Homo sapiens: one gene and its partners. The protein of the gene in region 2 interacts with the protein of the main gene of each other region in a pairwise test. Each region holds a gene or a part of one and is shown on either strand. Other genes may lie near its edges.

Region 1 (7,864 bases), on a different chromosome or scaffold from region 2:
TAGATGTTCTACTCACCATAGCATCCCTTTAAGTAGTGGTATCCCCATTTTCCAGAAATGCAACTGTAGATCACAGAGGCTGAAGTGGCATGGCCGAGCTCACTCACCTCGGGAGTGACAAAGTCACACGTGCAACCCAAGTCTGGCTGGCAGTGGGGTAAACATTCTTTCCACTATACAGAATACTTGGAAACTCTCTCTACACTTTGAATTTTTAAGTCTATTTAGGGTTAGAGCAAGTTAGCATCAAAGAAGAGTAAATAAACGTTATATTATTTTGTAATCCAAATCTTTAATTTATGATGCATGTTTTTCTATCCAACTCCCATTCCCACTCCACTTTTACTTGCAAAGAGTTTTGTAATGTTTTGAACACTAGCAAGATATCTAAGATCTTAATGTTTTATAATAAAGGAGCAAAGCCATTATGCCAGGAATTAACCATAAGAAAAAGACAACAATATCCCACGGCAAACAATATTTTTACTTCCAAGTCATTATATACATCAACATAAAACAGATCAATTAATGAGTCAGAAACCCTGAAGAACTAATCATTTCTCAAAACACAAGGCAGTCAGGTCAAAAACTGACGTAAGTCACCACGTATAGAAGCCTACAAGAGCCAAACACTGAAGATTCAGGTTAAAAGGTTGCAACCTTAAAAAAATAAATAAAAGGCAAAACAAATTATACAACCATGTCGAATTTTAAATCTGTAATTACCAAATATCTGAACCAAATGCCAAATTCAGGAAACATGCATCCTATAAACAACTTAAACACTCTCTGTTCTTTGTAACTGTTTTTTCCAGAAGCACACTGACACTTCTGCAAAGTGAAGTGCCTTTCCTGCCTGCACAGCCCCATGATTTGCTCCCTCTCAGGGCCCTCTAATGCACCCCTAAGCTACTAAAGCCCAGACATAAGATTTGATCAATAAACCTAGAAAGAACTCAGTGCATTACTGCCAATTGTGTCCATCACAGAAAGTACCACCTGGAGACTCTTGAGGAAAAAAATGAGGAAGGGGGAGATTTTTGAAAGGTTTTATCATCTGTATTACAAATTATATTTTGTTGTACTTGATCCTTGAATAGAATAATCATCAAACTATGTTCAGTCTTCTTCAAGTGGGGGATGGTCATGTGTAATTTTATGGTTTGGGGAGTGTGCCTCATAGAGATAAATAAAATTAAAAGTACCATTAGTATGCCCGCTAAAAGATAAAACTCACACAAACCACTTCCCCAAATGATAGTGCTGTCTCCTGCGTCCTGATTTTTGCGTCCACCCTGCACCTCTCCCTGCAGAAAGCTGGCTGGCATTCACTACCGCCTCACTCTGGCAAAGGACAGGATGTCGAAAACCCATTAAGAAAGCTTCTCATTTTCTGTTCCTTCATAACATGATGGCAACTCCTGGCAACTCCAAGATGAAAGGCAAAAAAGAAAATAAAAACTACCTGGGGCCCCCTACCAGAATGAGTGGTTAATCTAATGGAGAGAAAAGCAGAGATTTATACATATTTTAAAATGCTTCCTGGGGACAAAGCAGATCTAATGAATTGCTGAGCCACAATCTACTGGAAAATCCATAAATGTTCGTCCCTGCTGTCACAGGGCTAGAGGATTTTTTTTTTTAATGAAATGCTTTAATGCTAACCTGACAGGGCTAACCTGACAGGTTTAAGTCAGCTATGAGACGTGATTTGCATTCATTTCGCTTCTAAATCCCTAAAGATCAGCAACAATATTGACCCGCAATTATATATCCTACGTTGCACTGTTCAAGATGCCATTTGAGGCTGGGAAAGTAGTGGTTTAGCAACACCAGGCGGCTCTATGATGCTAAAATAACAACGCAACACTGGATTCCGAACCCAAGTACTCATCTTTTAAAACCCAGTGCCGCACCAGGACCCACATTCAAAGCTCGCGTCCCTTCAAGTTGAATCTTCCGGCTTTGTGCGATTTACCCTCTCAAACTTTCTAGTTTGCAAGTCAGAATTACTTTGAACGTCCCCTCTTCTGGACTCCCCTCCCCAAAGGGACTGGCGGCAAAGGAGAATAGAATGCAGATGGTTAATAGTTCAAATGAAATTTAAAAACCTATAAACCAATATTTTTTTAGAGGAGAAAAGCGTTCACCAAACCGCCACCCGGCAAGCGAGCATCCGATTTCCATCCGGAGGAAAAAATATTTTAAAAACCAGACATAAAATTCCCTTTGCAAGAAAAGTGGCCTCTAAACTCCCTTGCCAAGGACACTGGGAGGAAGCAGAAAAGCAAAGACCAAGCTCGTACTTTTCAGTCCGCGGCTTGTGTGCCGCGAGGAGAGGCGCAAAGGGTGACACACCAGGAAAGGTGAACGCAGAGGGAGCGGGAGCCCGCGGCGGGGCAGGGTGGGGGCGGAACGGACGAGGTACCCAAGGTGCGGAGAGAGGGGCAACCGGGCGGAGGGCAGCTCCGAGGCTGCAGGCGGGACGGGCGGGGTCCCCGGCGCAGCCCGGATCGCCGCCGCTAAGTAAAGTTAATACTTACTCAGTTTCGCAACTGCGCCGCCCCCGCAGGCCGCCCAGAGGGGCCGGCCGGGGCGCTGGGGACGCGGCGGCACCCGGAGCTCCGCGGCCGCCCAGCGCCCGTCCCCGCGCCGCACTCCCCGGCACTCCCCGGCGCTCCCCGCGCCGCGCGCCCCGCACCGGCTGGAGGCCCCGGCCCCCCGGCGTTCCCTCTCCGCGCACCTCCCGGCCCGCGCTAGGTGAGTGTGGACGCCACTGGCGGGGGTGCCGCGGTGCGCGAGCGCTCGGCCAGCGGCAGAGACGCCGCGGGAGCCGCCCCCAGCGCCAACGCCGCCGCGGGCGGGAAGGGCGAGGCTCGGCGAGGCTGGGCGAGGAGCTGGGCGGCAGACGCTGAGCGGGGCGCGGCGCGGGGCGCCGGACGAGCGCGGGCGTAGGAGGAGCGCGGGCGTAGGAGTCGGCGACCCGCTCGCTCCCGCGGCCGGTGCCTCTGGGCTGGGGGCCGGGCTGGGGGCCGGGCCGGGCCGGGCCGGGCCGGGCGGCCAGGCGGCTCCGCCCCTTCGCCGGGCAGCGGCTGAGCGCGCGAGAGGAGCGGCGCGGGGGCGCCCCCCTCGGCCGGGCGCTCGGGTTTCAGCCGCCGCTCCTCCGCGCCCCGCCCGCGCCTGGCCCGCTCGCCGGCGCCGGGAGAGACCTCGTAACGGAACTGGGACGCCAGCGCTGCATTGTGGGAGCTTTTAAAGCGGCGGGGAGCTCGGCGCGACCCTCGGGCCCACCGGGCCACGCTCGCCCGGCCCGCGACGCCCCCCCGCTGTCGCCTGGCCCGCGACGCACCGAGGCCTGAGGACCCGAAAGCCGGGCGCGGGGAGATGACCGGTGGCTCGTGACGGTCCCACGGGCAAAATCTTCCATCGCCCGGGGCTGAGACTTGTCAAACTGCCCTCTACGGTCACCCGGAAAGTAGGAGGCTTTTTCTGCAGAGGGGAAAAAAATCAAAAAGAGCCGTTCCATCCCCCCTCCAAGGACTGGGTTTGAATTGCTTTTCATCTGCAGTGGCTGTGATTCAGCGTCCCTCTTAGCAGCAGGCAATGACAGAGGCAGGAGAGGGGAAAAAAAAAAAGAAAGAAAGAAAAAACACAGCAAATGAATCAAACGGACGTGAGTAACAAAAGTTTAGAAAGAGCTGGGCTCGTATTCAGAAAAAACGCCTCATCCCCCCGCCCCGCTGCACTCCCAACCCCTTTAAAAATAGCAGATAATCAAGAAAGGAAACGGGTGCTTTCATATGGAAATACAGATGTGTATGTTGTTTTCAATATTCTACTGTTTTTTTGTGTGTGGCATGCAATTACTCAGGCACTGGGCAAAATTCAGCCTTTGGATTTTGTGGTCACACATACCCCAACTCCGCAACAGCTATTAATTTGCAGGGCGATGGGGTGCGGATAGTGGATGAGATACAAGAAAGCATTCCAATTAAAATGCCCCCCCCCACCCCGCCTTTTAATTTTCCAGACACTTGCTTTTATTTTTCTTTTTTTAAACATCATCAAAACAAGAATATTAAACTTGAAGCAGAATTTGTTACAGCGTATCTGACTCAGGACCTGATTTAAGGTTTGGGGTTTTTTGGCCCTTTGTTTCTTCCTCTTGTTTTTTGACCTTTAGTTACTCCACACCTCATTAGTTCCTTGACCTGCAGGTGGACTGAGAAGAGAGCCATGGTAAGACTCAAATTTGTCAAATCAACATTTGGAGAGGAGAAAGTTCACTGTGATTCAAATGCAAAACCAAAGGGAATATGATTTAAAAGTCAACCTGGAGGGCATGGATCCTCCCTTAACCCTACTTGACTCTTTTCAAAGGAGTTGCCTAGCCTTAAGGTGAATGTTTCCTAACCTCTCATTCCCTTCTCAGCCTTTCACTCCACTGAACAACATCAGCCATTGCTTAATTGCCAAATCTAATGGAAAAATTTAATTCCCATCTTGTGCCCTTTGTGGCATTTGCCAATGTTGACCTCTCCTTCTTAGAACTTTCTGCCTTTTGGCCGGGCGCGGTGGCTCATGCCTATAACCCCAGCACTTTGGGAGGCCAAGGCTGGCAGATTGCCTGAGGTTGGGAGTTCGAGACCAGCCTGACCAACATGGAGAAACCCCGTCTCTACTAAAAATACAAAATTAGCCGGGCATGGTGGCACATGCCTGCAATCCCAGCAACTGGGAGGCTGAGGCAGGAGAATCGCTTGAACCTGGGAGGCAGAGGTTGCAGTGAGCCGAGATCACGCCATTGCACCCCAGCCTGGGCAACAAGAGCGAAACTCCATCTCAAAAAAAAAAAAAAAAAAAAAAAAAAAACTTTCCTCCTTTCTTTGGCTGTGGTAGTGATCCCTCTTTTGTGTACTTCTTGAAGCAGGTAGCAGGCAAGAGTGTGGTTATCGTTGGACCAGGATTCAGGATCTGACTGAGTAGCTGACTCTTAATCCAGTTTGTGTTGATCACCAGGAGGATCTGGACCTCAGTATTACCACATCTAGAGGTGAGCAAGTTGACTGACTCTTGATAACTAACTCTTATATGATGAGCATTTATATCAGGACAGAACTTCCTGATTGGATAACAATACCTACTATTTAGGAAAAACCCTTCCTAAAAATCCAGGTATCCTCACCTCCAGTCTTACTGATGGCTGCCAAAGTCAGTGAATTTGCCTCCATTCAGTGCTGGATAAGTGCAGAAAAATCTTTACCCTACCTAGCCCATTTGGTTAATGCGTTCTTTCTTCAGAGTGTAGTACAATTTGTTTTAAGCTTTTTTTTTTTTTTGGTAGCTATAATCACATCCCTGTTAAGCCTTCCTGAGATCACACCAAATGTCCTTGATGGGAATTGTAAACAACCCTTACTTCTGGTTTCTAATGATATTCCAGGAAAGGAGCCTAACTAGAGTCAGTGAGTATTCATGCACTTCAAACCCTGTGACATAATAAGATTTGATTTTTAAGAAAACAACTTGAGAGGATGGATTCAGAAAAGAGGCAGATCCAAGGGAGAGTCTAAACTGGAGAGCAGTGGCAATGAACAGGAGGAGGCCATATCGAGAGATGAATTGATCATCTTATAGACCTGGAGGTCAGAAATCTAAAATCAAAGTGTGGGCTGTGTTCCTTCTGGAGGATCGAGGGGAGAATCCATTTCCTTGCCCTTTTCAGCCTCTAGATGCCACCTGCATTCCTTGGCTTATAGTCCCTTTCTCTATGTTTAAGGCCAACTGCATAGCATCTTCCCCCATTTCTTTGTAACTTCTGCTTCATGGTGATGGGGACATCTCTCTCTCTGATCGTAGGAATTGATTTAGATGCTTTTCTAGCCATATGTATTATGAACTAAATGCAGTTGAATTACTTATGGGAGGAAATGGCAGGTGACCTCATTACTTGTCAAATCATCGTTAGATAACTGACTTGACTGTTAAGATTGCTGAAGCAGTGATTTATTACCTCAGCTAAATCTGTATCAATCTGGTGACCCGTGTAACTGAAACCAAGATGTTAACACTGTAAGAAAACCTAGCTTATGTTTGCAGCTCCTGAGAATAAATCCCTTTATCTTGAAATACCTGGAAATCCCTTTTTAATGTCCAGTGGAGTCATATTGCCAAGTTTGAGAAATGTGTCTAGACCAGTATTTCCCAAACAGCCCACCAGACAACACCAGCCTGTAAGATGGTGATATTGTTTGGATGTTTTTTCCCTCCAAATTTCGTGTTGAAATGTGACCGCCATGTTGGAGTTGGACCTAGTGGAAGGTATTTGGGTGATGGGGAATCTCTTGTGTGGCTATGTACCTTCCCTGCAGTAATGAGTTCATGAAAGATCTGGATGTTTAAAAGAGTCTGTGATCTTCCTCCTCTCTCTCTTGCTCCTGTTCTTGCCAGGTGATATGCCAACTCCACCTTTGCCTTCCACCATGTTTGGAAGCTCCCTGAGGCCTCACCAGGAGCAGATGCTCGTCCCATGCTTCCTATAAGCCTGCAGAACTGTGAGCCATAATAAACTGTGAATTATAAATTGCCTTTATAGCAATGCAAATGGACCAGTACAGATGGGATGCTGGGAAGACAGTTGTTTCCACCTTCAGTAAAGTCCGTGGAACACAGTTGTGACTATATTCTAGGCCAGCCAAGATGCTTGTACTCAGAAAGGAGTGGTCTCAGGACCATAAGAAAGTGAAAAAATAAAAATAAGAAAATAAAGAAGGGATTGTCAATGAATCAGAATTCATCAAGGTCAAAGTCTTAGGAAATTCCTTCATGAGGAAGTCTAGGGGGGCTATGGAAATGAAATTTTTAAACAAATAGGTATGTGGTGCTGGCAGGAATAAATTATGGACTTATGAATATAACATAAGATTCTTTATTACCTGGTCTCACCCGTCTTTCCACCTCTGCCCCCCTTCTTGCCCGACTCTGTGTATCACCCATAATAAACTACTTACAGCTTCCTAGTGTTAAATTTACCCTAAAGCTGCCTCCTTCAATATTTTAAGTTTAACCTAAAGGTTCTTCATACATAGTGAACTATAACCCAATGATTAAACAGATTGTAACCTACTCTTGTACCAGTCACCAAGTTTCAGCCAATCAGAGGTGGCCAACTGTTCAAACCATGCTCAAATAAGGGAAATGTCATGGTGTAACTAATCCAGCTGTTTCTATACCTTACTTCTGTTTTCTTAGGTCACTTTCCTTTTTTGTCCATAAATTCTCTCCAACCACTCAGCAGCACTGGAGTCACTCCAAAGCTATCCTGGTTCAGGGGTCTGTCTGATTCACAAGTCATTCTTTGTTCAATTGAGCTCTGCTAAATTTAATTTGTCTGAAGTTTTTCTTTTAACAGATGGTGTCAGAAATGGACCCCAAAGTAGAGCTCCCAGTGATCCCCCAGGAGCACTGAGTGACCACAAGGGGTACCTGCTGGGCCCGTCCTCTCGCAGTGTCCACTGCTCTCTTACAGCAACTGGAGATTGTGGCTGCATTCTCTCTCAGATTCTGAAGCTCCATACATTGCCGTTTTCAGCTGTTCAAGCTTGCTTGAGCAAATTTTTGATCTTAGCTGAGTTTGGAAGTCGATAGACATTGGACTGGGTCCAGGATTTGATTGGATCTGATAATTAACTGGCTTGGATCCAGTTAGATGCCTCGGTTATCTGACTGGGTCAGATAGAAACCGCCAGTAAATATTTTAATAACAATACTGCAGGGGTATGAACTCTGGCTTTAAGAAACTCACAAGGAATTTTATGTTCTATACCCTTTGTTTCTTTTTCTTGTGTGCTTCGGTCAGGAAAAA
Region 2 (6,343 bases):
GTCACATAGGGAAATGTCAGCCCTGGATTTCTGCTTCTGAAATTTTGGCGGGTTTCCACCGAGTGCTAAAGTGCTTAGGTTAGGTGCTCTGTTGTTCTCAAAGACCCAGTACTGAATTTTCACTGTGGCCTCCCAGTTTGTCTCCTCCCAGGGGGATCTGCTGCAGGAGGTATGTGCCAAGTGTCCCATCACCCAAAAAGAGCTGCTGTGAACTGAGTGTATCCATGTATAGTCCCTGTACCTCACCCTTTTATGCATTCACTGTGTAATTATTAAAACTAGCAGGCAGGTGCTGTTATTGGCCCGATTTTATACGAGAAGGAGACTGAGACACTGGGAGGCTAAGTAACTGGCCAGGACACATGGCTAATTAGTTATCTGGGCCAGGATCCAGCCAGATCTATCTGACTTCAGAGGCCAGAGCCCCCACAATTCACCACTATACATCCAAGCCGAACCAAATCTAGAAGGCATGTGTTCAGTAAGGGTTAAGTTTAATGTTGCTGCTGAATAGAAAGGGGAAGAGGGGAAGCTTTATGAGATGCAGTAAAGAGGCTGCTTTATACCTATAGTCTTTGCTTCTTTTCTATAACTTCATCATAAATAGCTTAATTAGAAGTTTGTTTTAGAAAATTCAGACTAAACATCTTCTTACACTCTAACCCTACTTTGACTCATTAACCTCTATTTACTGTAAGATGAGAGAGAGTGTGTGTGCTGTTCTGGTTGTCTGCCACCAAAGAGTCACAGTGAAACTTTTTGGTAATGGTTAATATTTGATTTTTCATTCCTGATAGCAATATGTCAGAATATATGGCAAGAGGTGTGAATAATTTGAAGTATTTATTGTTTTTATCTCTGTGTTTTATTTCAGGGTTGATTGTGAAAGAAATTGGGTCTTCCACCTCGAGCTCTTCAGAAACAGTTGTTAAGCTTCGTGGCCAGAGTACTGATTCTCTTCCACAGGTATTAAAGGAATTGAAAAATATCAGTTAGGAAACTGAAGTTATAGAAAATTTTAAGTAGTAACTTACATTTATACAAATGAGCAAAAATTAAAAACCCTAAGGAAATGATCCTTCCTAGATACGTACATTCTAGCTTTATTCTGAATTTATTTCCATCTTATTTGCTAGTTCTGCTTATCTTTGAGTTGATTTTTACTTAGATAAGTTATAGATTTTGCTTCACATTTTATATGGTTGGGAAGCCTCTGTTCTTCAGGCTTCAGGCGAACCACGTGTGCACATGCATGTGTCTGTGTGTGTTGCTTGTCCTCAACCTGGGAGAATAATATTTTTTGTCAGTGTGTTCTGGCAGAAATGTTTCCACACTCTGGTTATTCCATTCAGATTGAATTTTCAAAGTATGCTGAGCCTAGAGCATTTGACAACCTGTGATCATTGGTTAAACTATTAAATGTCCAGCAATATAGATAAAATACTCTGAAACTCATGGTTTCAGCATTTGGATGTAATGTATGACTAATGGCCCTAATTCCTGAGCACTTCCTCCCTCCTCCTGCCTTTCTTTCTTGGGCTCTCTTTGTGTCTTGTTTTTTTCCCTTCTGTGTGTGTTTCTCTTTTTTCATTTGCATTCTGGCTCTCCTTGTCCCTACTTTTCTCTTCCTCTTTCCTCCCTTTTTTCTCATTTGTCTTTTCTTTCTCTTACTTGCGTTGAAGTAACCATAATGTGAAAATGATGTTTATGAAATATTTTCCTGAAAACTGCAATGAGTAATCTACTCTTAAGAGATGTTTCTGGGGCACAGCTGATAGTCAGATTCCACACCTACACTATGGGGAGAACTTTGTGTGCCTTCCTTGAGAGTTTGTGGGGATGACCAAATGATTCTATGTGTGAAATCCTGTTGGAGTCTGGGAAGACAGCATCAGCACAAGGGATCACTCGGATGTGACACTTCCTAGTAAAACATGCTTCTGGAACTTTTGCCTCTAGCAAAAATTGTATCTTATTCTAACAGGGTTGTCCTTTGTGGTGGGAAGCAGCAAAATTTAAAGATATAATACCTGGTTTCCTTAAATAACCCATTGCATATCTTCCATTCATATAATTATCAGAATCATTTTTAACCTATTTCTAATACCACCTCTTGGGATAATAAAAAAAAGTCTGCCCCCTGCTGTGTACAGCATTTGGCGGAACCCCCCCACCCCCGACTCGTGTTCGGGAACTTAGTCCTGGTGCCTGCCTCCCAGCCTCTTCAACACCAAGAACACCCTATATCCTACCCAGCACCAAGAACACTTTATATTCAACCCAAGAATTCTGGCCTTTTAAAGAGAAAAACTGTGTTTCTTGGTAATAATTGGTTTATTTTCCTATTTCTTAATAAAATAATAACAGACCTTGGCCTAAAAGGTCTGAATTGCCATATCCTACTGAAAAAAAAAAAGGAAGCCATGTCTTTACCTATATGACCTTATTTCAAGATAATTACTTGATTTCTGAAATGCTAGGGATAGTTGGATTCCTGTTGTATTTGCACCTCTGTGCTTTGGATTATTTGTAAAATGAGGAGAATGATAGTGCCTGCTTCCTAGGACTGTTAGGAAGATTAAATGAGTTAATGCATGCCGAGTATTTAGGTCAGGGCCTGGCACATAGTAATTGCTCGGTAAATGTTAGCTGCTATTATTACTGATGGAGGTGGTGTTGATGATATATTTCCCCATACAGCCCAGAAACCACAGATTGGAAACCACTTTCTAACATGTAAGGATTACTTAACCTTTTGTGGTTCTGTAGCATCTCTCTTTACAAGGCAAATATTCTAACCTTTCACTTTAAAGTTGTTTCATCCTTCCCTTATCTTGCAGACTATATGTCGGAAACCAAAGACCTCCACTGATCGACACAGCTTGAGCCTCGATGACATCAGACTTTACCAGAAAGACTTCCTGCGCATTGCAGGTCTGTGTCAGGACACTGCTCAGAGTTACACCTTTGGATGTGGCCATGAACTGGATGAGGAAGGCCTCTATTGCAACAGTTGCTTGGCCCAGCAGTGCATCAACATCCAAGATGCTTTTCCAGTCAAAAGAACCAGCAAATACTTTTCTCTGGATCTCACTCATGATGAAGTTCCAGAGTTTGTTGTGTAAAGTCCGTCTGTGTGCAGCTGTACAGGCAGCTTACTGTTTGCTAGAGGATGCGAAAGTCATAAGTTCTTTACATATTACTTGTGCCATATCTTCTTCACCCTAAACATAGCTCTTTCTTTATAATATTTGTGATGATGGAAACAAAAGCCTTGGAACAATTGCACTTTAAGTATTACACAGAAGTAAAAGAACTACAGAAAATGTACAGCAAGACAAGTGCCCGGAAGTTCACTGATCCTTCAGAAGGAAATGCGCTTTACTGATTGCAAAGCCTTCAGAATATTGGAGTGTGGTGTGTTTGCTCATCTGATGCTTTTTAGTTCAGTTACATGTAACATCACATTTTTTTATCACGTGAAAGATGTTAGATTTGTTTGCTTATAAATTTTTTACCACTCCCACATAAAATGCTCATAGTTTGGGAGAGGAAAGAGGGAAGATTCTCTCTTCTTTTAACAGAGAGATGATTGCTCTGTATACCCATTGCTTCCTCCCTGAGGCTGTCCCAAAGTGAACACTGATGGAGTGGTCAAAATCATAAGGTTGTAGCAAGCCAAAGATACGTATGTGACAGAAGCACATAAGCAATAAGCAGAAAACCAGAAGTGCATGCTGTGATGCCTGTGACTCCTTCATCCCGCTCAGTGCCATGTCCTCTTTTGTGATCTTCCAGAAAGCTCCAGGATTCATTTGAGTTCCACATCCAAGTAACAGATGAATTATATTCATGTTGTAATGCATTTTGTGGAGTTTACAAAACCAGTGTCTGTTAAAACTTTGGAAAATGTCTTAGAAAACGTTGGTGCTTGGTGATGCTTTATTTGTTTAATTATCAAGAACAAATTATGGCAATGCTAGTTTCTGCTTAACCAAAATACTCTGTGTATATATTATACATATATAAATACATGGGATTGTGTATGTCTATATGTGTTTAAAGCTTACTATGTCTTCATTTTGGCTTCCATGACTATCTTTTATACATGGAATTCCTTAAGATTGAGAATATGTCACTGAGTGAATGATACCTGCAGACAGTCAGTTGATATATGTAGAGTTCAGAATGACTGTTTTCTCATGTGCCTTTGGCCATGATTCTCAACACTGATTGTATAACAGAATTTTGGGGGGAGCTTTTAAAAAATAATGACTGAGTCTCCCACCAGACCGATTACATCATTCTCTTGTGGCGGGACCCAAGTAGAATTGCCTTTTCTTTTAAAGTTCTCCAGATGGAGCTAATATGCAACAAAGTTGAAAACCACTGATCCTGGGGGTGTCTTGTTAATTTTGAAGTAAAAGTGTACAGAAGACGTAGTGTATGAGAAAGGGCCATTTTTAAGACAGTTACCTGTTGTGCTGCTGTTACAATATATAATGAAACCAAGTCAGGGGAGTGAATTTATCAATCTTTTGATGTAAAGTAAAAACGTAGTTCACACTTCAGGAGAGAACTTCATAGCACAATGTCTTTCTATAAGATATTTTTAATGATTTAGTATTTTACAACATTTGTTTACCATATTTTGATATACCATTTTTTTCTATCTGCCCAGTTTTATTAAAAAAACTATATATTATTTTCTAAAGAAACAATCATATTTTTATACAAAATTATGTTTTCAGGTAACGAAATAGATGTAGGGTACAGTGGAACATAAGCAGTGTTACCCCTGGCTGGGAGTCAGTATTATACAACAAATGGTGAGCTGGAACATGCCCTGTCTGTGCTGTCCCTCCTGTGCTGGGTCGCGGATGTGTAGGCAACATTGCCTTATCACGCTAGGTTCACCTGACACTTTAAAAGGAAAAAAAGTTCCATAGAGTTCTGTGGTCACAAAATTGTTTTGCTTTTATCAAATACTTTAATAGAACCAAAGTTGCAGATATTGGAATGTATGGAAGTATCTCAGTCTCTGCATAAGAGGATTAAAGTATGAAAGGATCATTTAATGACTGTTTTACTTATAAGTCATTAAGTAATCCACCATTTCTTATGGATGATGCTTAAGCCTGGTGAGGTTTGTACTCTAAGGAGCCCAGATCATAATGCAGTGCATTTCCTTAGCCCTTAGAGTTTCTTGCAAACATTTAAAAAAAGACATATTTAAGAAAGAAAGATAAAGAAAAAACATATTTAATTACTGTAAACAGGTACTGCTTTATGTTTATTTTCTCTCTACTTCAACCAAAATCAGATCTTTGAGGTTTTGCTGACATTGTTGGTGGTTTTGCACATGTTCTTTCTAATTGGATTTATGAATAGTTCTATGGGTTTTCAAAGATGAATCATGCTAAGAACACTTCTGCTTTTTGATCCACTGTTTGCAGCAGAATTATATATATGTATAGGAAAAATCCACTTTGAATAATCCATGTTTTGTATTTGGAAATTGTTTTTAAAAATAAAAAGGAAAGGAAATATATAAAGCTGTTATTTATTCTGCATTTCTTACATATCTATCGCTTGTCAGTATACCCGTTTTGGTATATATTGCCTCTGCACATCTACATTTGTATATGCAACAGTGAGCTTTATATCTACATAAACTGTAAATAATCCTTTCTGTGAAAGGATCATCATATCAAGATGATACCAAAAGTATGTAAAAAGAAACCTGCATTATTTTGTAATTATTTCTTATAGATATTTCATGGTAAGATTAGCAGTCAATAAAGTTACTTTTTTGCCTTTAAATTGCCTTTTTGATTATTAGAGCTCTCAAGCGAGAAGCATTAAGGAGTGACAGTGTTTTCTTCATGTTCTTTGCTGTAATGGAGCACAGTAAAGGACAACAAGGTTCCATGTGATAGAATTCCAAGTAAAACAGTCCTGGTGGTGACGATGGTAATAACTGATGCTGAGTACTACCATGTGCCAGACCCAGTTTCACATGTATTCAGATTTCATGTGTTCAGTCATTTAATCCTCATATCCCCAGAAGGCAGGTACTATTATTATTCTTAGTTGCAGATGTGAAGGAATCAAGCTTCCAGGAGTTTGTGGTAGTCAGCCACTGTTGAGTTCAAATTATGGAGCTGAAAAAAACTCTCCTTTAAAAGGAAATATTTTAACCAAAATAAGTAACTTAAACCTGAAAACCGTCATCATTGGACTGTTGGTTTAATTATAAAATAAACAAATGGTTGCATTTAAAAGCATGCATTCACAAAGCTGAACGTGAGGGCAGCATGGCATTAAGGAAAGAGCCCAGAGT
Region 3 (7,025 bases), on a different chromosome or scaffold from region 2:
TTAGCCGGGCGTGGTGGCGGACGCCTGTAGTCCCAGCTACTCGGGAGGCTGAGGCAAGAGAATGGCATGAACCCGGGAGGCAGAGCTTGCAGTGAGCGAGATTGCACCACTGCACTCCAGCCTGGGCGACAGAGCTAGACTCCGTCTCAAAAAAAAAAAAAGGAGAATCACTTGAACCTTACCCAGTCTTGGGTATCCCTTTATCACAACAGAAAACAAACTAATACAGGTTGGGAGAAGGATGAATAACTAATTTGCACCACTGTTAAAAGGCAGAACCCCAGCTAAGCCAGTAATGCTAAACTCTAAATGGCACACACTCCCAATCGCCAAGTGGGGCATCTCTGAGAGGGCTGTAAGAGCTCTGCACATTGTAGGCATTCAATATGTGCTTGTTCGACAAACAATCAACCAACTTGACTTTAATTCACTCTTCAATGAGGGTCTTTCTGGCATTGCTTCAAAAAGCACCAGTCAGATTGTGCAGTTTTCCTAATCTTCACCAGCCCAGCCCAGCCAAGAAAAGTTGGGGGCCCACAGGACATGAGCATATGTGACAATTAATGTATCCCCAAGATCACACGCAGAGCACACACAAAGGGCCAGCTCATCTGCCACATGCCAGTCCACAGAGGCAAGTCCCATGGTTCTTGGCTCAAATGTCGCAGTAGGAACAGCACTGCAAAGCCCATACACTTGACATTTCTACTTCCTGTCTGTTTGATAACATGCAGCTGCCCACTTGGTAAATAAATCTGGGGAAAACACAAAGCTGTAAATTTACTTTCTGAATGATTTAGCCATCTTCCCTTTACAGATTTCTCTTACCGTTTTGCATTATGCTGAGTGTCAAAACTGTATTAAGCACTGCCCAGTGTTCAGAAGAGACCTCATTCATCCTGGGAAGCACAAAGGTCACGCACAGCTGTTCAGTCTGTAGACTGCACAACCCTAGGTGGTGCCATTCATAATGGCCACCATGTGAATGGCGCCACCTGGAATTTTGTGGTGTATTGGCCCTGCTGGGAAAGTTCCAGTCCACTTCTCTACTAGTGGCAAAACCAAAAGAAGTATCTTCCCAGAGGGTCCCAGCCCCCTTGCCCCTGCTTACACAAAGGGTTAGCAGCAGTCAAGGCAAAACGCAACTGTCCTCCAGCTCAACATGAGAACCTAGGCTGTGCATCTGTAACACTCAACATTTGGATATCTAGGGGGCAAACAGGTACCTGGCTGTGATACTCAACACCTGTGAGGGGTCTCCGCTGGTATCGAAGAAAATCCAGATTCCTTACTCTGGCATTCAAGACCCAACTCAGCCTAAGCTTGCAGGCTCCCCCAGCTCTTCCTAGATGTAGTTGTGGCCTGAATCCTACAGGTGTGTGTGGAGTTGAGATTTTTGGTGAAAGCAACTCATTAATCAAGCGATAATTCACAGCCGGTTGCCGCGGCTCTCACCTGTAATCCCAGTGCTTTGGGAGGCTGAGGTGGGAGGACTGCTTGAGGTCAGGAGTTTAAGACCAGCCTGGGCAACACAATGAGACGCCTATCTCTACAAGGGGTGATGTCTGCCCACCTCTCTAGTCAATTTCCTCCCCTCTAGTCACAATACCCCAATTGTCTATTACAGGGGTCTGCAAACTACAAAGCCAAATTCACTGCCTGATTTTGTAAATGAAGTGTTAATGAAACACAGACGTGCCCGTTCATTTACTGTCTACAGCTGCTTCTGCATAACAATGGTAGAAATAAGTAGCTGCAACAGAGACCATATGGCCCATGAGGCTAATATATTTATTATTTGGTCCTTTAAAAGTTTGCCAACCCCTGGTCTAATAGTTCAGTTCCTGTGTTTCTGGTGGAAATGACCATCTCCCTGGTTTCCTGGGTGGGCAGGTAACTGGCATGATTCTAGCACCATTTCCTCCAAGTGAAAGTGATTGGTACATAACCCGAGCCAGGCTAATAAGAGTCTTTCCTGGTTTTGTTTTGTTTGTTTGTTCGTTTTTTATGCAACCGCAACAGAATGCAAGTCTAGTGCTGCCACATGGAGAAAACAAGCTTAACAATGAGGCCAATACAGAAGAAACAGAGAAAGAAAGAGAGAGAGAGAAAGGCTCTGATGACATGATTTCTGCTCCTGGATCCAGCTATGCCTGAAGCCATCATTCCTGATTCTTTCATAACAAGGTCTTATGCAGGACTGTCATATATGGAATGCAGGGTGTAAATGCACAACTCTAGGGGGCAACCTGACTTACATACCTGCCTTACCTCCTACGTGAGACTGAAAATTCCCTGAGCATGGTCACAGGACCCTATCTAGCCCTGTGTATACCACAGCGCCTGGCACACTGTACTTAAGAAATAACTACAAAAGGAACTGAGATTAACTTTTCAACTGATGATTGGCACTTTCAGGATGCAAGTTCTGCCTGCAGGATAGTCTGTCAGTCAACAACTTTTTCTGAGTGAACAAGGCAGGCAAAACTCCCTGCCCACATGGAGATAGCATTCTTGTGAGCATAGCTTTAAGGACATCAGATGGACTGAACTAACTTCTGCTACATAGACCAGTAGAATCCTTTTTTTTTTTTTTTTTTTTTTGAAGTCTTGCTCTGTTGCGCAAGCTGGACTGCAGTGGCGTGATTATAGCTCACTGCAGCCCTGACTTTCCAGGCTCAAACGATCCTTCCAACTCAGCCTCCCGAAGAACTGGAACTCTAGGCACCAACGTGCCCAGCTAATTTTTTAAATTTTTGTAGAGATAGGGGTCTCATCGTGTTGCCCAGGCTGGTCTTAAACTCCTGACCTCAAGCAGTCCTCCCACCTCAGTCTCCCAAAGCACTGGGATTACAGATGAGAGCCACGGCACCCGGCTGTGAATTATCTCTTGATTAATGAGTTGCTTTCACCAAAAATCTCAACTCTACACACACCTGTAGGATTCAGGCCACAACTTATGAATAATGAATAATGGAAGAGTTCTTTAACATTGTGTTTGTATCAGTTTAATTAATCTCTATTGAAACCTAATACTGACAGAAATAAATGCTTATAAAACTTTTGCTCTGTGCTAAGCATATTATATGCATATCTCATTTATTTATTTATGTATTTATTTTTGAGACAGGGTCTCATTCTTTCCCAGGCTGGAGTGCAGTGGCGCAATCACAGCTCACTGTAGCCTCAACCTCCTAGGCTCAAGCGATCCTCCCACCTCAGCCTCCAGAGTAGCTGGGGCCACAGGCACACATCACCACATCCGGCTAATTTTTTGATGTTTTGTCGAGATGGGGCATGGGGGGGGTCTCACTATGTGGCCCAGGCTGGTCTCGAAATCCTGAGCTCAAGTGATCCGCCTGCCCTCAGCCTCCCAAAATGCTGGGATTACAGGCATGAGCCACTGCGCCCAGCCAGAGTTACTTACATGTATGATCACCAACAAAGTATCAAGCATTCCTAACTACTTTTCCACATTCCAAATTCATTGACTCCCTTCGACAACTCTGAGAGAAATACTATTCTTTTTATCATCCCATTTCACAGATGGGAAATCAAGGCACACAGAGATCAAACCACTTGCCCAAGGTCACAGAACTCGAAATAGTAGTTGAGACCACAGAGCCTGGATACAGAACCATTTTGCTATGGAAATATTTGATACTTGCTTCTAAGAAGAGAAAATGAGAGGCCTGAGGCATGAGCCCCCAGCTTGGAGGGAAAGATGGGACACCAGAGACTTTTGGAATCTCAGGCCAAGGACTGAGCTGAAACAGCGCTGCCTCCTTCCACTCTGCCAGGCTCCAGCTGTGGGTCCTGGCCGCTGTCTGTCTCCCTCTCTGGGCCTGCCCCTCCGAAGCATGACAAGCTCACTTGATGACTTCTTGATCCTTCCCAGCCCCGACCTTCTTGACTGTACCCAGGCTCTCTGACCACGTCCCTCTCTCAGTCACGGAGAGGTGGACCAGGCACGTGGCTGAGAAGCTTCAAAACTGCGTTCCCAAAATATCTGAGCGACTGGCAGATGGAGATGTTGTATGCAGGCGCGGGAGGAGAGCAAATTAGAAATAAAACGAAAGATGCCAGAGAGAACATAAACAGCGTTGGAGGACAGGATGGAGCCTGGAGGTGCTTTTCTGCTTCCCTGTTTCTGAAGTTCTTGTTCGGAGCAGCAAAAAGGCACTTGTTTGTTCATTCCGTCTACCCATCCATGCAATGGATATTTATCGAGCTTTTACTATGTGCAGGCCCTGGGCTAAGTGCTAGGGAATCTTGTCACGCTGACTTGGATGGAAACCCTCAGAATGCGGTCAGCCCCTGAAGAATATAGAGGCTCGGCTCACAGATCTCCTTTTCTGCTCGGAACCACGCTCCACGTGACTAAAAACGCCCACACGCTTAGCATTACACGGTTCGTATCTCAGAAGGCCCGATGTGCCACTAGGTGAACTAAAACCACACCACCAGCTGGTCTCGCCAGCTTGCCGAACAAAATGAGGGGTACAGAACATATCCCCAGTCTGCAGCAAAGTTGTCCCTGGAAACTCAGCCTGCTTCTCTTTCATGCCCCCAAATCCTCCCTCCCGTGGCCCAGACCCCCAACCCGCCTTCTCATTAAAAAGGAAAAGTCTTGAAATTGATTTCAGAGAAGTTCAGAGCAGTTTTACTTACAGCCAGGGAGGGGTCTGAGCAGGGAAAGGTCCCAGAATTTCAACTTCATCCTCACTTGACTGGCAACAGCTGGACTCGTAGCACTTCTGACAGCAGTGCCGGCAGGTCCATCTGCACAGCAGCAGACCAGAGATTCTAGAAAGAAAACCCTGAGGCCATTGGGGGAGGTGGGCGGGGGGATGGGGGAGAGGGGAGGTGGGCAGGGTGGGGAAGAGGAAGAGGAGAAACAACACCCAAAATTACAAGCAGCCGATCTCGGATGAGAAATAGACATTCAGGAGTTCTGGCTCTGCTGCTCAGCACTTAGAACAAAATGTTTTCCATTTCTATTTACCAACTGCAGGCACAAAGATAGCAAACATCAACTCGCTGGAGCCGTTAGTAGCAAGCAAAACATTTGCAGGTATTTTCTTTTGTAGTTTATGTGAACGTCTTTCTTGACATGTGGGTGGTTTATACAACATCATAAGGGCTATACGATATGTTCGAAACACAATGAATATTACTGTGTCTTCTTGAAAGCAGGGGAAAAAATATTTTTAAAAAATCTCGGTGACATGAAACAGACAGAGATAATCAAACGGAATAAGTAGGGGTGGAGAGGGAAACTTGTCTTGTCAACTGGTGTCTTTTCAAAACCGGGATCTCCTTTCGGTAGAAAGGAATGGAAACTGTGCCGTTATTAACACCAGGTTATTGTTGAATATTCAATATCCCCACAGCCCCACATAAGACTCCAAAATGAAAGTCAGGCATTTCTTGATTAGAAACCAGACCAAACAAATCATCAAATGAACCCACCTCGTTTAATGGTTCCAACTGCCCTTTTAAGATCCACGATGAAGCCAAGGGCGTAAGGGAACGAAGGGGTTAAAGAAAGAGAGACAAGACCAGTTTAGCAATATTCCAGCAACTCAAAAAAATTTTACAAAAAAAAAAAAAAGCCCTGCATATTTCCACTTACCATCCTGGGAAGGGAGCTGACTTCCTAACATCCTAACAAGGTGTTGCTATTTTCAGGGCTGCTGGTAGCCTCCTGGTTAACCAACACCAAATAAATGGGAAACTTTAGCATTTCGATTTGATTTGCACCGTATGCTGTTATGAATCAGAGCGGGCGGATAGATAGTCATGCTATCCAATGCAGCCACACTTCAGGAGAAGAGCAAACCTTCCTATACAGAAATAGCCATGTAGCCAACCCAAAAGGACATGATTAGCTAACATGCAGGCAGGCACACAGTGGATGTTACTTGGCTCCCCCGCCCTCCCGGAGGCCCTACCTTCCAATTCTGCTCCAATGGTGATGGTGGGGTGTTTCCTATCACCACCCACAAATAGAGGGAACTAAAAAGGAAGCCCTAATCTGGTCCTCTTGAGGAAGGAGGTCCTCCCTTCCTGTTGTGGCCCCACCCCGCCTCCCCATCTTCGTCTCCTGGGTTCTCAAGGCACAGACTCCCTCCTTCTCTTTAAGGTGGTTTTCCAAATGGGCCAAGTAGGCTAGATAGGTTAGAAGTACTGCATCCCAACCTCGGGCATGTCCCAGAGGTGAACTGAGGTGGGACTCAAACTCAGAACTTTGAATCAAGAGGGAGAAAGTTATTATCTTTTTTCCGATTCTCCTTTAAGGAGGAGAAAGTCTCAATTTGGTACCACTACATGTTAACATCTTTTACCACTTACCAATTTCCACCCTCCCCCATCCCCTTTCTTTTAAACAAAGAAAGTAGATCTTGTCCAGAGGCTTGGAGACAGCCACGTCCACCTAGAATTCAGTAATGTGGCATTATTCCCATTGGGTTTATTCTTCTAGTTGCCTTCTGCGATGTCACATGATCTTGGTTTCCTATGATATTAGTGACATAATGTTTCCTTTTCATATGATTTTTTTAAAGTAAAAATAAAAATGAGCCCATTTATAGAAAAAAAATTAAGTTAATAATAGCATAGGTAGGGCTGGGCGTGGTGGCTGATGCCTATAATCACAGTACTTTGGGAGGCCAAGGCGGGTGGATCACCTGAGGTCAGGAGTTTGAGACCAGCCTGGCCAACATGGTGAAACCCCCTCTTTTCTAAAAATACAAAAAATTAGCCAGGCGTGGTGGCAGGCGCCTGTAATCCCAGCTGCTGGGGAGGCTGAGGCAGGAGAATCACTTGAACCTGGGAAGCAGAGGTTGCAGTGAGCCGAGATCGCACCACTGCACTCCAGCCTGGGCGACAGAGTGAGACCCTGTCTAAAATAATAATCATAATCATCATCATCATCATCATCATCATCATCATCATCATAGTATAGGTGGTACGTGGCTTGTGAAAAAATTGAAATCCTCGAAGTGGTAAGGGAATAGCAACAG

Evidence for each region. Proteins that work in one complex are often made in the same cells at the same time.
Region 1: the proteins of FRMD6 (region 2) and RASSF8 interact in binary tests that used the Homo sapiens proteins (3 or more experiments, as listed by UniProt).
Region 3: the proteins of FRMD6 (region 2) and SYT17 interact in binary tests that used the Homo sapiens proteins (3 or more experiments, as listed by UniProt).

The regions. Positions count from the first base shown.
Region 1 is NC_000012.12:25,953,828-25,961,691, reverse strand, and holds the start of RASSF8 (ras association domain-containing protein 8), read right to left. Parts: upstream 3,011-7,864; 5' UTR 2,544-3,010; intron 2,367-2,543; exon of another isoform or gene 2,250-2,366; intron 1-2,249.
Region 2 is NC_000014.9:51,724,905-51,731,247, forward strand, and holds the end of FRMD6 (FERM domain-containing protein 6), read left to right. Parts: intron 1-874; coding exon 875-966; intron 967-2,700; coding exon of another isoform or gene 2,701-2,733; exon of another isoform or gene 2,734-2,840; coding exon 2,841-3,125; 3' UTR 3,126-5,823; downstream 5,824-6,343.
Region 3 is NC_000016.10:19,171,225-19,178,249, reverse strand, and holds part of SYT17 (synaptotagmin-17), read right to left. Parts: intron 5,916-7,025; exon of another isoform or gene 5,667-5,915; coding exon of another isoform or gene 5,636-5,666; intron 5,622-5,635; exon of another isoform or gene 5,496-5,621; coding exon of another isoform or gene 5,491-5,495; coding exon 5,473-5,490; intron 4,821-5,472; coding exon 4,672-4,820; intron 1-4,671. UniProt on the Homo sapiens protein: Plays a role in dendrite formation by melanocytes.